2 separate regions of the Homo sapiens genome follow, and region 2 is linked to region 1. Evidence: fine-mapped expression QTL. A gene starts in region 1. The other region holds a variant in brackets. All regions are shown on one strand. Distances are from middle to middle.

Region 1 (8,319 bases):
CAGGTCAGCTCTGACTCCCCACCCTCACCCCAGCACTGTTACACAACGGTCACTGCCGCGGGCACAAAACACCAAGGGACAAACGGACTGTCGCGGGGAGAGGGGAAGAAAATGGGGTTGCGTGGGGTGGAGCTGAACAGAAGCCTCCCACAGAGAGCAAGTGTGCAGACCTCAGCTCCTCTCCCCTCTCTCCCACAACCCTCTATTAGCCTCTGCAGGGCTTCTGGGCACCTGCATGTCAGATCGTTGGGGTTAGAACCCTCGCTCCACCACTTCCTAGCTGTGTGACATTAACCAAGTGAATTTACTTTTCTGAACCTGTTTCCATACTGTGAAATGGAAATAATGAAACCTGCCTCTTGAAATTATTTGGGAGAATTAAATGAGATCTCATGCCTATAAGGTCTATTACATTAAGGTCTATTTACATTACATGTAAAGGACAAATCATTTTTTTTTCTAAGTCTTCTAATTGCTGAATAGACCATTTTATTTCCAGCATCGGGCACACAGTGGGTGCTCCTTGGTTCGATGAATAAACAAGCCAATCCCCTCGCTGGTTGGTAAGTCCTATGAAGGCAATGATGGTATGTCTCTTACTACTGCATCCTCACCACCCACCATGGACCCTGGCAGATAAAAGGTGCTCAATACATTGTTGAACAGAATCTCTGCACCAACTATCCTTGCTCACGGCAGGGGCAGCCCTCACCTTCTTCTTTCCCTACACCCCTCCCCGAACCCTGATTCCCACTTAGCTCCTCCCCCACCCTCGCGGCCCCCTCCTGGCCCTTCAACCCCCTTCTCAGCAATTAGCTTACTATCGCTTGCCCAGCTCCCCTGCAGAAGTAGCCACAGCAGCAGCCCCTCTGCTAAGAAGATGGCAGACCAGCAAGACACCCACTTCCAGCTGAAGTCCCTTTTGGAATTGGGAATTGGAGGTGGGTAGGAGAAGGGGTAAAAACTAAATGCGGCCAGAACTGAATCCAGACTTGCCTCCCTATCACACTGCCTCTGGCTACCTCTGGGGGCCAGTCTGCCTCTCCCCTCGATTCCACCCCATGCCCTAGTCTAGTTGTAATTACAGGTTCCAATTCCCCCAGACCTTAACGTCAATAAAGTAACACCCACCTACTCCCGCGCCCCCCACCCCCTACAAACACAGCTAGACCTCCGGCTTGTCATAAAAACTTTCTGGGCGGCCCCTTCCCTGGCAGCTCCCGAGGGTTGACCCAGAGCAGGTGCTAGAAGCCTCGCGGCGTCTTCCTGCACGAAGCGACCCAAGCAGCCCCAGTCCGCACCGCCTTGGTCAGCGGGCGCTCCCAGCACACACCCAGCGCGCGGAGCGACTCCTCCCAGAGGACGCCGAGTGTGTGTGTGTGTTGCGGAGATTAGGGGGTGGCGGGGGGGACGGCGGCAGTTTCTTGGGCTCTGGCGGCCCCACCCCCACCCCGGCAGCGCCCAGCCTCCAGGAACCCAAGGCAAGGCTAGGGCGCGGCGTGGTGAGAACGCGCTTCGGCTAGTGGGGGGAGCCCTTGCGCCCCCCGCACCCAGGCCACCGCGGGGAATCCCTCCTCCCCGGCATCTCCGGCCTCGGCCTAGGGTCCCCCGCAAGCCGGAGCCGGCGCGAGCGGCGCAGCGGGCGCCAGGAGGGGGCGGGGAGGGAGCCGGCGCCGGAATCACAAAGCCGCGAACCCGGCTAGGCGGGGACATTCTCATAAAACCGACCCTCTCGTGGCGAGCAGAGGGGGTTTTTTGCCCTACGCTCAATCCTCCAAGGCCTCAGTGCCGCCCCCAGTCTTTCCTGGCAGAAGAAATAGTAGCCGACCACTGTTGGGGAAACTGAGGCCAGAATTCTGACTTACAGAGGGTAGCTGGGGGGAAGGGGTGCGAGACCACCTCGCCTACAAATTCTGCTCCTATGCCTGCCGCGATCTCCGTTCTGGCTCCAGGGCCTGCCCGCGCACACACTGGCCTACAGCGGGGACCAGGCGGAGGGGGCGCTCAGGTGTGAGACGAACCCAGGTGTGCGGGACCCACCAAGGTGTGTGGGACCCAGGTGTGCTGGAGACCCAGGTGGCTCAGAAAACTCAGCTAAATGGCTGGAAGAGGGTCGCAATCACCGTCCCAGGCTAGCACCCTCTACAAAGGAACCTGGGGCCCCAGAGCTCCGGGGAGGCGGGATGGCTTGGCCAGCCAGGTCCAGCTTGTTCCCGGAACACCAGCCGGTTCGGCCCGGGAGTGGGGGTTGGGGAGGCGCCGACTGGGAAGCCGGCAGGCCGGCCCAGCCTTCCCGCTGTGCCGATATTTACAATAATAATGTCGCGATTAACGTGGCGGGGCGCTTGGGGCTCGCCGAACGACCCCGGCGGCTTCTCCTGCCTGAATCTGGACTCCGAGAGAGAGGAACGGAGTGTGTGTGTTTGTGTGTATGCGCTGCAGGGTGTAATGTAATGTGACACTGTTGGTTTAAGGTGTGTGTGACACCCAGTGTTAAGATGGGTGAAGCAGTGGATTCTGTGTTTGTGACCGTGAGGCGCTGCTGTAGGTGCCAATTCCTGTGTTAGAGTGTGTGCCATCAAGCGTGTGCTGAGATACTGGGTTGTGTGTTTGTGTGGGTGCAGTAGAGGGGTGCAAGGAGACCTGTGCTGTGTACCTATGTTCTGGCCAAGAAGTGGGTAAGATGATATATGCTAGGGTGTGTTCCTTAAAGGAATGTGGGGGGTGGCTAGGTTTTGAGGGTTCATCTAGTGAACTGTGGCTGTGACACTCGTACATGAGGGCACGAGATTGTGTTTGTGTGTCCACGTCGCGGGGTGTCACACCCGGTTGTGTTATTGCTCTGTAAAGCCACGGGTTGTGTGTCGGTGCTGCTGATCGTGCAGACACTGAAGCGGATTCTGAGCTGGCGACGGTGCCCCAGTGGGCGCTGGTGTGCGGGAGGTATGTCTGTGTGCACATATGCAGGGATGTATGTATGTGTGTATATATGTCCACGGTCTGGCCCTCTGGGTGCCCGCGAGAAGCTGGAAGCGGCTGAGTGAGCCGAGGTAGTTGCCCAACAAGTGTGTATGTATGTGTTGTGGACAACGGTCCTTGCTTGCTCCGTCCTCCGGGAGACCCCCACCAAACTGGGGGCCGCGCGCTTCCCCAAACCCATCCTCCACGCCGCGCGCTCCTGGAGTCTCCTTATCCCCGTCTCTCCGAGCGCGCCCAGGTTTGGGACGCGGGGACTAGGGTTCTGCTCAGCACCCCCTCCCCTCCCTCGGCTTCTCGCCGCGGACCTGGGAGGACGGAATCCCTCAGCCGCATCCCCTGCTATGGGCTCCCAGCAGCCCCCACCTCAGCCCCCTCGCGCCGAGCTCGTGTTGGGCCCCCGCGGCCTCGCTCCGCCGAGCGCCCCTCCCTCAGCTCCCGCCGGCCATGACCGCTTCGGGCCCCAAGCCGCTGCTGCCTCCACCGCCGCCGGATCCTTACCCGCCTCCGGGCAGCGCCGGCCGCCCGCCCCGCTGTCCATGAGCCGCCGCCGGCCCCGGCCTGGGCTGCGGCTCCGCACGGCTGGGGCTGGAGCTGCAGTTCGGGCTCCGGCTCCGGCTCCGGCTGGCTCTGGGCGCAGCAGCCCGGCGGCTTTGCGTCCGCGCCGCGCTCCCGCTCCCCGAGTGTGTGAGGCGGCGGCGGCGGCGGCGGCGGCGGCGGCGGCGGCGGCGGAGCCAGCAGAGAGCGGAGCGCACAGCCCGGCCCGCCCCCTCCCTCCCCCCTCCCTCCCGGCCCGCCCGCCTCCCCGCCCCCCCTCCGGCCGGGAGGTGGAGCTCGGGACCGCTCCGGTCCGGCTGGGAGGGGACCCCGAGCACCGCTCCCCAAAGCCTGGACCCCTCCCTCTGCCATCTCTTCACTGCCCGAGGCCCAGTACACAGGCCGTGCCCTCCTCTGAGCTTCACCTTACACTTATCCCACCCAAGCCTCCATCTAGGACCGCTCCTGGATTCCCCTCCTTACCCTACTCAAACACCTGTCCCCAGCTCTGTCTGCCCCCTGGGAAGTCGAGGCAAGGGAAGTGTCTCCCACAGCGCCTTCTTCCCTGGGCACCTGCTCCTCCATATCCACCCTCTTCCCGCCCAGATCCCCGATCGCCCTGTGTGGCCCTCCCTTCCCGCTGCGCTCGGGGAAAGTCCACCCCTCCCCCTCCGGCCGAAGCCGCAGAGCGGTCAGCCTCGGTGGCCGCAGCAAGCCGTGGGGGTGGGGCTATGGAGGGGACCGTGGGAGGAGGAGGCTAATGGGACCCGGGGGCTCTAGAGTGAGGATGGGGAAGATACACAAGCGTGAAGACGAAGTGCTGCTCCTGAGCTTAGGCTATTCGAGGGTCCCCTGATCACCTGCCCTCTGCACGGCGTAGTGCTGCGGCCACACGTATTTGCCAGTGACTTACATTATACAGTCACCGGGTCCCTGCCCCGCGAGGCCGCGCAGTGTCACGGCCTGTGTCACACGCCCTCGCAGTGCCACACGCTCCCTATCACACTCACACCAAATCACACACGGTGTCACACGCAGTGTCTCACACACTCCAATACTCGGTTTCTCCCATTCAGCTCTGGCTCTCTGGCGCCATCTAGAGGTCTCTGAGTAGCTTGGGAACTCCCTCTCCTGCGCTTGCGGTTTGGTAACCCAGGCTACCAAGTGTCCCAGTTCAACAGGACCTCCTGCCTTCTTCGCCTGCAGGCCCAGGCAGAGTGTTCTAGGTCAAAAGAATGAGGAAGGTTATCCCTAGCCAGGCCTAGTGCTGGGTGAGGAAAGGCTCTTGTTATGGGATGACCAGTTGTTGGGCCTCTTTTTGCCATAGCCTCTGACTCCCCATCTCTGTCCTTCCCCATTTTCCTGTTCCTACCACTCTTCTGTGCCTTTCCTCTTTCTTCTACTTCCTTCTCTTCTCAGCTCTGGCCTCTCTCGGTGGGATGCTCTTCAGGGTAAAAGTGGAATCTCTGGTTAGCTAAGAGGGCAAGCAAAGTCTGTCCAAGATCTCTCCCAGAGCAGCCCTGCTTAACTGGACTCCTTTTCTGACCTGGGCTCTGCTCTATCCCTCAGCCCCAGGAGCCCAGGGGCAGGGCTCTAGATGGGAGATGGGGTAATCTGGTGAAAGAGGGGGGTGGGTCTGTTCTGTAAGTAGCTTCTTTCTGTCTCTAGAAAGCTCATACTCTCCACATCATTGAGCACAGCTCCGAGGAGGGAATCAGTGGCCCAGAGAGAAGAAATCTTCCACAGAAGAGCTGCCCCGGTCTCCCTGCCCCCAGCGTGTGCCCGCTGCCCAATGCAGCAAACCCTCCCCAGTCTGCTTGCTGGGAGCCATTCAAAGGCTCCTCTGTTCTCCTCCCTTGCTCAGGGCTGAGCAGGATCAGCAGCCGCAGAGCTGGGCAGGAAATGCTAATCTCCCAGATGTTCGCCTCCATCCTCCCTGCTCCACCACCATCAAACTCAAATTCTGCACCAAGTGGTAGGAGCAGAACTGGGCCACAGCAGCAGCACCAGGGTGTGCCTACTCTTCTCCCTGCTCCCCAGCCCCTCCTACCCCAGCTGCCAGGCTGGGCTCTGTGCCCCTGAGTCAGGGACAATGTAGATATGAGAATTGGGGCCTTTTTTCCCCAGGAAAGAGGGCAGGTGAGCAAGCAGGGACTGGGAGGATGGTTGGGGAGCAAGGGAGGTGGCATTTGAAGAGGAGAGAAGTCAGACTTCTGGCCCTGTACCAAAGTGGGAGGAGGACCTGCTTGGCAAGTGAAGCACTGGGGGAGGCTCCTGAAACTGATGGTGCCTGAGTTCCAGCTGAGACTGTGGCCAGGGATTGGAACCAGGGTGATGCTGGGTATGGGAATGGTTGGGGTGCTTGCTGTGATATCCGTGTACCTGGGATGGGCTGTGGCTAAGTGAACTAGGATGCTGTAGGGCCTGGAACTGTAACACCAAGGCTGCTGCCTCTGATTGTACTTAGGACACTGTTGCAGTGCTCTGATGCTGGTGTGCCTAGGCTATAGCCAATAAGATTACCTGAGAAACTATCGCCAAGCTGTGTGTATATGGGTGTGTGTGTGCATGTTGAGGGAGAACTGTAACTGATAAGCTGTTGGGCCTGAAGCTATAGATATGAGGCTGGCACACCTGAGACTGGCTGTAGCTGAGAAGCTGTTCCCTGTTAATATGATGTAGATGGGACTGTAACTGGATCCATTGCCTAGGTCCTAGGAGATGAGAGGCTGTTGCGAGGAGCCTGTACCTGGGAGACAGGCTGTTACCTGGGATAGGAGCAGAGCTACTGTTGTGTATAGGACTGTAGCTGAGCTGCTATTGGTCCTGGAGCTGTAGCTGTGATGACAGCATACTGGGGATTGGCTATAGCTAAGATGCTGTTGCTCAGAATTGTGGTTGGGCTGTTACTGTGTGCTGGACTCTAGCTGGGATGCCTGCAGCTATAACTTTAAAGCTTGGGTGTAGCTAGGAGGCCATTTCCTGGTAATTTTGCTGGACCATTGTTGTGTGGGGGCTGTGGCTGAGACTCTATTGTTTAGGAGATGACAAGCTGTTCTGGGAGGCAGGATACTACCTGAGATGGAAGCTGATGTACTGTTGGAGCTGATCTACTGTTGTGCATAGGGTGGTCCCCAAGTGGCTGTTGCTGGGTCAGTGACGAGCTGGGTGGGGGAAGCCAAGTGAGTCCTGCCTTGAGGTCTGGGAGATGCCAGGAGCTCTAGGCTGGGTGGGGGCTGCTGCTCTGGGGAGGCCTCAGCAGCTGCTCTGCTGTGGAGCTGGAAAGCCTGTTTTCATTACTGTTTTAACTCTTTTTTTAACCTTGTTTTTCTCTCGGCTGCACTTTCGCTCACTCATTAATTTTGGTATTTTTCTCACGGTGCCTCAGCCCCTGTCACGGCTGCCATGGCAACAGGAGGCAGTGTGCTCAGTGCCAAAATATCTGATCAAAAAATAACCAAAATAAGCAAACACCAAGACGACTGTTCTGGGGACTATGGTCAGGGAGAGCCGATGGCTCAGATCCAGGAAACCCTAGGCTCCAGGGTACCTGTTTCACTACCCCTCTCCCCCAGGGAAGCTTTGCTGAACGTTCTGATAACCTAGAAGGCCCCTTTCCAAGGAATCCCCCACAGCACAATCTCCCAGGACTCTGAGATTTCCAATAGTTCCTGTCCAAGGGGCAGCTTTGCCTGAGGTGGGAGCATCGGGAGAGGGTGAGGGCTGGGGATCACTTCCCAGGAGCTGGCAGATGAAGCTTCTAAGAAGCTCCCTCCCTGCCCTAGCCACAAGCATCCGCACTCACTCATTCACCCACCCCTCTTCTGGCCCTTCTTGCCTTAGGCTTATCTCCCTTTCTGTGCACCCAACCCCCACTAGGCCACTTTTGTTTTCTCATAGCCCAACGTTCTGATGGGATGAACAGAGGGGAGGAAGCTGACAGTCTCCAGCCCCCTACCAACTCCTCAGTGGAGGTGCCAGAGAGGGGTACCATAAAAGTAGCTGACATTCCGAGGCCTCTGCCCACCTCTAGCTCACCTTCCTAGGGGAGATTCCTGAACATCCCTGACCACTCACACCGCACTCCAATTTTCCCTCCCACTTCTTGGGAGCCTTCTAGTTCCCTGGAGACCTCCTCTCAAGTGGGCATGTCCCCAGGAGGGGTAAAAGGATAGAGCCTCACATAAGTTAGAAATGGGCAGAGCTCTTGGTACTACCTGTCTCTTTTCCTTCTTCATCCACCACTTTCCCCTCTGAGGAGGCTTGTCTAGATGTCTGGAGCACTGGGAATTGGGGGAATGAGGAGGAGCCCCTCAACTCTGTCTCAGTCACATCACTTAATCACACCTCTCCTTCTGCCCCACCCCTCTGGCAGTGAAGGCTCACTCCCAACAGATCTCCACCCGCTTCCGGGAATGGCCAGAACTCGCCTCCTGCGTCTCTCTTTCCATTTCTATCTTCCCCTCCCCCCAAGAGCTGTAGTGGCCTTGGCCTCCTGGCAGTGCCTTCCCAGCCTGTTTCCATAGAAACTGGGTAGGCTGTGCAGTGCAAGAATCGGAGGGGAGACAGGAGCAGGAAGGAGGGACCAAGCCTTAGGGACAGCCCCCGATGAAAGGACCGAGAGAAACGGGGAGCTGCCCCATGCAAACTGAGGGTGGGACCCCGATTTGGGGAACCAGGCGGGATGGAGCGTGGAGTGGGGGGAAGAGGTAGCAAAAGCTTGGTAGCTGGCTTTGCTGCCTCCTGAGGAAGGGGCACAGAATCTCCCCTTCCCTGCCACAGGTAGTGGGGGTTCCTCCCTCCCCA
Region 2 (8,319 bases), 28 kb before region 1:
GCTGGACAGATGGGCTGACTGATGAAGCCCACATCTCCCCAATATTACTCCAGGGGATGGGGTTGGAGGGGAAGGGGTTTGGCCCAGCAGGATGGAAACTCCCCTCCATTTTTTTCTTTTTTCTTGAGACCGAGATTCAATCTTGTTGCCCAGACAGGAGTGCAATGGTGTGATCTCGGCTCACCGCAACTTCCGCCTCCCAGGTTCAAGCGATTCTCCTGCCTCAGCCTCCCGAGTAGCTGGGATTACTGGCATGCGCCACCATGCTCGGCTAATTTTTTTGTTTGTTTGTTTGTTTGTTTTGAGACGGAGTCTCGCTCTGTCACCCAGGCTGGAGTGCAGTGGCGCAATCTCGGCTTACTGCAAGCTCCGCCTTCCGGGTTCACGCCATTCTCCTGCCTCAGCCTCCCGAGTAGCTGGGACCACAGGCGCCCGCCACCAAGCCTGGCTAATTTTTTTGTATTTTTAATAGAGACGGGGTTTCACCATGTTAGCCAGGATGGTCTTGATCTCCTGACCTCGTGATCCGCCCGCATCGGCCTCCCAAAGTGCTGGGATTACAGGCGTGAGCCACCGCACCCGGCTGTATTTTTTTTTTTAGTAGAGACGAGGTTTTTCCATGTTGATCAGGCTGGTCTCGAACTGCCCGCCTCAGCCTCCGAAAGTGCTGAGATTACAGGCGTGAGCCACCACACCCGGCCAACTCCCCTCCATTTCTACTCACTTTGCCCAGAAGGTTAGAAGAAAAGAAACCCAGGTAACTGCCCTGAGGAATCTTAGCATCTTAGAGTACTGTGGCTATGCTCTTTTCTCCCACTTCAGGGCCTTTGAAGGCAATTTCCCTGCAGTTTCCTTGTATCTGGAATGTTCTTTGCCAAGCTCTAAAACTTCAGGGTTATTTTTTTTTTTCTCTTTTTTGAGACAGGGTCTCACCTTGTTGCCCAGGCTGGAGTACACTGGCCAACCTTCAGGTTTCCTCAGGGAAGCTTCCCTGGCTGGGTAAAGCAGCCCCCTCCCCTCCCCCACCTCCAGTTATCCTCCTTCTTGTCCCACTGTTTGTTTCCTTCACAGCACTTTAACACAATCTATAATTATCTCATTTATTTGTTTATTGTCTGTCTTTTCCTCTAGAATGCAAGTTCCCAGAGAGAGAGAGTAGGCATCATGCCTGTCTTATTCAGCACCATAATGCTAGCACCTGAGACAGTGCCTGCCACTTAGTAGGTGTTAGACGTGTGATAAATAAAAAAGTGGACAAATTATCTCATTGAAGCCCCACAATAACCTTTGGTGATGGTAAGCACTATTATCCCCACCTTACAGAGGAAGAAACTGAGGCTCAGCCACCTACCCAAGGTCATGCCACTAGAAATAAGTACAGCCAAATTTCTAACGTAGGTCTCTCTGACTCCAAGTTTGATGGAAAGTGGGGACCATTCTTTTGTTTGTTTTCCGAGATGGAGTCTTGCTCTGCTGTCCAGGCTAGAGTGCAGTGGCACAATCTCGGCTCACTGCAACCTCTGCCTCCCGGGTTCAAATGATTCTCCTGCCTCAGCCTCCCAAGTAGCTGGGATTACAGGTGCGCACCACCGTGCCCAGCTAATTTTGATATTTTTAGTAGAGATGGGGTTTCCCCATGTTGGCCAGGCTGGTTTCGAACTCCTGACCTCGTGATCAGCCCACCTCGGCCTCCCAAAGTGCTGGGATTACAGGTGTGAGCCACCGCGACCAGCCAGGGACCATTCTTAACCAGCCTAAACTGCACCTGGTTCCTCTTCCTGTCTGCCTGTGTATCTCCACTCCCAACCCAGGCATCCCCAGAGAAACCTGGGGCAGGGAAGGGAGGAACACAGAATCTGGAAGAATGTAAATCTGACCTTTTCTTTTACAGGCTTAAAATCTGTAAATGGCTCCTCTCCAACCCCTCAATCCAAGCACTTTAAGTTGACCAGCAGGTCCTTAGTTCTGGCCCCTGCCTTCTTCTCCAACTTCTCCTGCCCTCCTGAGCCACCTCACCTCCTCCTCCACCTCCAGACCCTGGCACATACTCCTCCTCAGCCTGCAAGGCTGACCCCTTCCTCAGTAGCCTATCCCTCATTTGCCCTTTGAAACTCAGCTCTGGCACCACCCCTTCCAGAAAGCCTCTAGACTTTGGAGAGGACAGCGCCTTTAGGTCTCCTGCCAGAATTTCCGGCTCAAGGCAGGGCCGAACACAAGATGTGGTCATTGTTTACCTGTCTGCCTTTCCCACAGAGACTGTGTGTCATTCTTGGGGTCCAGTACCCTGTGCCGGTCTGGCACATGGGAGGGGCTCAGGAAATGTTTGTAGAATGAGTTAATCAACCAGTGACAGGATTCTGGTACCCAGTCGGCCACCACATCTCCTCCAACTTCCTTAACTCCAGACATCTTTTCCTGGGCTAGGCCTTAACAGAAGGAACTCCTCACCCTTCACTGTGGGGTCAAGTCAGGGGTGGAGACAATGCGGGCCCCTCCCCCGCTGATTCAGCGCCTCTCCTAATGAGGTGAGGCCTCAGGTTTAGGAAGGGTTGCCACACCCACTGGTAGGGGGAGGGTCTGTGATTCTGTAACTGGAGGATAGGTAGGGGGCTTCGGTTGTAGACTGAGTAGGGAGCTGACCTAAGCCGGTAGATTCAAGTACTGCCCGAGAGATCTCTGCCTTTCCGCCCCACACCCCAGTCACCCCGCGCCAGGCTCTCGGCGCGTCAGATCCCGGCCCTGCGTTCTTCATCTCCTGCCCCGCCACGCCCCCAACTGCAGATCCAACTCGGGTCTCTCCGAAAGCAGCAAGGAGCCTCGGGGTGGGCTCTATGCCCCGTGATGCTCCGCGTCTGGGAACGGATGAAGGGGTGCCAGCAACCCCCGCCGTCCCCGCTGTCGATCCGGGTTTACACGAGGCTCATCCGGGATTAGTCCCTGCGGTCGGCTAATCCCAGCGGCTGGACCGACCCCGGGGTCCGGAGCGAGGCCCACACAGTACCGGCCTAGGGAGCTAGGGCGCGGGTCGAGCAAAAGCGCGCGACGCTGGGCGGGTGTGGGGGTGGGGAGGGGCGGAGGAGGGAGCAACGCCCCGGGAGGCGGGGCCAGGAACCGGCTGATCCGGTCTCTGTTTTCCGACCTCTCCGGAGCGGGTGTTTACCCGGGAGCCGGACGGAGGAGGCCGGGGCCGGTCGAGCCCGGAAGGGGGGAGGGGAGCGCAGTCGGAGACCGAGGCTGAGACCTTTTCGGTTCCTTTCCCCTAAATCGACTTCCAACCCTCGTTCCTGAGCGTGGGAGAACGCGGCAGACAGACAGATGTCTCCCGCCCCTTATCCTATCCAGTTCCGCAATTCACACTCGTTGCCAAAGAGTGGGGAGCGGGAATGGATACACCCGGGAACGACTGCACGTCCTG[C/G]GGGCGCCCGGGGAAGAAGGCAGCGCAGCACAAAACCTCTCCTGCGGTCACCTCCCACCCCATCCTGCACCTGAGTTCTTGCGGGGAGGGGGTGCCCACAGCAGGTCGGGCCCAGAGGATCCGGCAGGGGTCACTTTGAGGTGTACGGACTAGGAGTCTATCCTCAGAACGCGTCAGCTCGACCCCATCCCCGATTAATACCAGTGCGGGTCTCAGTCTCTTGTCCCTCGCGTCCCCCAGCCCTCTCCAAGGCCTCCAGATTTAGCTCCCACTCTCCACGGGACGCAGGCCCGAGGACCCGGAAGAAGCTGAGTGGGGTCCGGTTTTCACACTTTTATTGTAAAGCTCGGGAATAATTACACGGGTCTTTCATTGACAGCTCAGCAAACAAACCGGAAACGAACCGAACCGGAGGGGGTAGGGGCGGTGCCTGCGCATGCTCGCGGCGGGGTGGGGGGGGGTGGGGGTGGGGGTGGGGGGGTCAGAGAAAGAGAAAGACAGAAAGAGACAGAAATCATTACAAATCAACGGGATTGTGCTCGCAGCGCCAGGGATGGGGTGGGGTGGGGCGGGGCGGGGGCCCTTCCCGGGAGGAGCGAGGCAGTGGGAAGTGGCACGAACCAAGAGAAACACGACCCCAATGTGGGCACCCGACGCGCCCAAAACCCCCCACCCCGACCCCCACCCCCCTACACACGAGAGAGACACGGCCCCCCTCCCCACTAGATAACCCGAGGAGACACAGTCTCCCCTCCCCATGGGCAGACACACCCGCCCGAAACCCCATGGGCGGGACACAGTCCCCCCTCCCAGAGAAGTCCCCAGTGGAGACGCCCCTTAAGAGACTTTCTCATGGCCAACACAAGCCCTCCCAACACCCGGAGACAGCCCCGACCCAGGGAAGAAATGGCTCCAGAGGCCCTACCCTCGGGAGAGAGAGGTATCCCAGGGCTCCTAGGAGAAAAGACAACTCAGAGATGCCCAGCCTCATCCTAAAGTGCTGCAGGGCAGAGAAACCCCCATAGGAGAGATGGGGGTAGGGCCAGAAACATCCCTTCCCAGACGTGTTTCAGAGATAGCCCCCTTCCCTGGGAAGAGAGATGGCCCGAAACTGACTTGCCTTAAGTACTCCCAGGAACCCTGGGAGGAAAACAGGCTCCCCAGAGAGCCTGGGTAATTGGGGGAGACATGCTCCCGTGGTCCTCAGCGGGAACACATGTCCCCCGGAGACTCCCAAGGGGAGAGATAGGGCCTAGAGAGACCCCAGAGGTGAGGGATGCCCAGAGAACTTCCCCCCACCCCGGAATGTGAAACATGCTTCAAGGACCCTAGGAGAGAAATATGTCCCCATATACCCTCCCCCTACGGAGAGACATGCCCTGAAGTAGGGGGATGGGGACCGACTAGGTCCCCTCTGGGAAGACACAGACTGGGTCAGGCTGGGTTTGAGGGGGGCTCTCCTCTGGCCAAATGTCGCCTATTGGTACATAAAACTGTACGCGACACAGGCATTGGGGAGGGGCTTCACAGACCTAGGACCCACAGGGATAGTCCCCAGTGCTGTCGCCAACCCCTGCCCACCTTTGGTTTCATCTCTCCAGTGCCCAGTTGGTGACAGACTCAGTGCCCTGGCCCCAACCAGGGGGCTGGGGGCTCTGTCTTTGCCTGTGGGAAGGGCTTCTCAGCTCTCCCAGCCATCTGGGCCACCCTCTTTCTTCTGGCTTCTCCATTGTGCAAAATGCTCCTCTGCTCTTCTGCTCAGTGCTCAGGGGTCTCTAAGACCAGGGCAAGGTACCCAGGCCACTAGGGGCTTCCAGTGGGAGTCCACTGACCCCAGGAATGCCGCCTGTCTGGACCACCTTCTCCACCAAGCAAATGGGCCTCATACAATCTTCTTGCCCGAATCCTGACCTCCAGGACCCAGGACAATCCTTGAGGCCACTGTTCCACCAGCTGGGCACCCAATACTACCAACTCCAAGACTATTGCACCTGCCCCATTTGTGCAGGGGAAAGGGGCTGTCTCTTTAACAAGCCCCAAGCCCATCTCCTGGGCCTCCCCAAGGGAAAGGAGCCTTTGGCCAACCCCTAGACCTGGCTGCTGCCACCCCATCCCATTCTACCCCTTCCCCTCTGTAGAAGGGCTTCGTATGCCAGGGCTACCAGCCTAACAATGCTCTCCTTCCTAGCACTGTCACCCCAAGCCAAGTTGGGGGTAAGGGGCAGATAAATAGGGTGATTCTTCAGGCCCCTGGCTTTTCCGGGGTGGGGGTGGGGTCTCTGGGGTACAAGAGTCAAGACCCCAGCAGCACAGCTCCCAAAGGCACCAGACGACCCCGCAGCCTGTACCCACCGCTCGCAATCTTGGACCACCTCCCCAAGCTTAGACTAAGTCAAGCAAGGGCCATACCCTGAGTCTCCAGCCTCCCAGCCTGGGCCCCTAGGGAGCTGGAGAGGTATGGGCCAAGGCAGTGGGGGTTTCTGGAAGGAAGAGGGGCTGAGGCTTTGAGATGGCCACAGTGGGAGACGGGGGCTCTGCAGGACGCCCCTTACACCCTGGCCCCCTGAGGTGAAGAAGAGAACTTCACCTCATCATGGCTGACTGGGCTTCTCTGCCCCCCAACCTCCCTACCCCCTCCCCCATGGGACCCCTGACCCTGACAAAGGGAAGCCCAACTGGAAGAAGGGGGCCTGGAGCCCAGGGTGCCCTGAGGCAGCCCTCCCACCCCCTGAGATCAAGGCAATGGTGGTTTTACAGGCTGACGGGTCAGTCATGGCAGGGGCTGGGGGTTGAGAGGGCAGGGAGGGGGCAGGATGCAGGCCCCCTATATCGGGAGCAGCACCCAGCCACCCCCTGAGCAAACCTTCCTGCTCCCAACTCACCCAACCAGGCCAGAGGCACAGTCATCCCACCCCTGTCCAGCTGCCCCCCACAGCCTCAGGGCCCCTCTGTGATGCTCATCTGGATGTGGGAGGCCAGCCTGAGCGGGGATCCCCCCAGGGCACAGCGCAACAGTTCCAAAAAAATAGAGATTTGTATTTTTAAGAAAAATTAAATAAAAGCCCAGCTCTGCTGATAGGCAAATGTTACCCCCGTCCCCACCCCCACCCACCCGTTGTTTCCCTGGCCTGCACCCCCATCCCACCATGGCCCCAGGGGTATTTACAACATGGAACAATAGAGGCCTGGGTTGGGGGGCACTGCGGCAGGGAGGAGGGGGCACAGGGCAGGTCCCCCCCCAGAGGGGTCCCCCAAGACAACACGACATCAACAAGAAAAGTTGCAAATCAGGCAGAAATGGGGACGTCATTCCAAGGTCCTTATATACAGACACTGCATGACCAGCAGGGAATGGGGGCCCAGATGGGACTAGGCGTGGGCATGTGGCAGGCAGGTGGGCCAGTCCAGGAGCAGCACGGGAAAACAAGGCCTCCGCTCCACTCCCACCCCCGTCCCTACCCCACCTTTGGTAACAAAAGCCCTTCAGGGAGCCACTGGTGGTCAAGAGTTTCCTCTGGGAGCTCCCAGGGAAAGGGGCTCCCCAGTTCAGCCCTGCTTCAGGGCTAAAATTGGGCATGCTATCCCCGCCCTGGTCGGCCATGAGGGAAACAATGAGTTAGAAGTACGCTGCCCACCCTTGACTCCACCATCTGCCCAAATCGAGGGGGTGCTCCCTGGAAGTCAAGGGAAGGAGCCCAGTCATTGCAGAGGAGCCCTCTTGGGCATCAGATGGGGGAAGCCCCATAAAGGGGAAGGGGCCCCTGGGGGCTGGGAGATGGAAATGAGGGGAGAGGACCTGGACCCTGCATGGGAGAAGGGCCAGCGTGGTCATGAGGTCAGTGATACCCCCACTTGGGGCCCTGGCCAGGAAGTCCACGCTGAAGGGGTGGAGAGTGAGGCCCTGGAATGGGCCATTTGGGAGCTGGCCGGCGGCTGGGGGAGGGGGGCCGGCCGGCCAGTAGGGGGCTCACAGGTAGATCTCGCGCTTGGCCGTCTGGGCAGATGCCGGTGTGGCTGCGGGTGGGAAGTCCGAGGTCTGGGTCAGGGGGATTTCCTCCAAGGTGGCCGAGTCCTTGCAGGAATCATGGCTACTGTGGGAGAAGGCACTGTAGGAGGGCAGGAGGCGCACGGGGGCCGTTTTGGTGTTCCGGTCTTCCGGGGGGCTGGGGCTGCCGGCGCCCGCAGGCTCCTGCCCTCCTCGGTCCTGGTAAGGCACGAAGGTGGAGAGTTTGAGGGCGCTGCTCTTGGTCCGGCGGCTGGGAGATGACTGGCCAGGCATCCAGCATGTGTCAGAGTGGCCAAACTCACTGCACTCCCGGGTACATGTGCCTGTCATGGCGACATCAGGCAAAGGGCGAAGGTCTGTAGGAGGGAGCGGGGAAGGACAATTGTCAGACATACAGCCTCTGCAAAGCTCTGCTTCATGGCCTCCCACTGGCATCTACACCCCACCTCAGGACAGGAGTATGCGCCCCTTCCTGACCGCTGAACTCACAGGCACACACACCCTCAAAGAGACACATGCCCTCCCACCATCGACCTACTGGCCTACTGTACACACGCACACGCACACACACATAATCTATCTTTTTTCTTTTTCTTTTTCTTTGTTTTGAGATGGAGTCTTGCTCTTGTCACCCAGGCTGGAGTGCAATGGCGCAATCTCGGCTTACTGCAACCTCCACCTCCCGGGTTCAAGCAATTCTTTTGCCTCAGCCTCCCGAGTAGCTGGGATTACAGGCGCCCACCACCATATCTGGTTAATTTTTGGATTTTTAGTAGAGATGGGGTTTCACCAGGTTGACCAGGCTGGTCTTGAACTCCTGACCTCAGGTGATCCACCCACCTTGACCTCCCAAAGTGTTGGGATTACAAGCATGAGCCACCGCACCCAGCCTTATCCT

Evidence for each region.
Region 2: its variant is fine-mapped to the expression of PCDH1 in whole blood (INTERVAL, PIP above 0.99).

The regions. Positions count from the first base shown.
Region 1 is chr5:141,874,746-141,883,064 of GRCh38, forward strand. PCDH1 (protocadherin 1) reads right to left here and starts at 3,665. Exons shown (of 5, transcript NM_032420.5): 1 at 3,478-3,665. The coding sequence starts at 3,517. RefSeq lists enhancers at 1,963-2,647, 2,914-3,663, 7,693-8,319.
Region 2 is chr5:141,846,660-141,854,978 of GRCh38, forward strand. It overlaps PCDH1 (protocadherin 1), which reads right to left. Exons shown (of 5, transcript NM_032420.5): 5 at 6,431-7,777. The coding sequence ends at 7,383. Among named protein-coding and RNA genes, the nearest start is that of PCDH1, 28 kb to the right of the region's middle. RefSeq lists enhancers at 117-938, 1,695-2,251, 2,367-2,456, 2,810-3,366 and a silencer at 3,017-3,266. The variant C/G (reference allele first, on the strand shown) is at 3,416.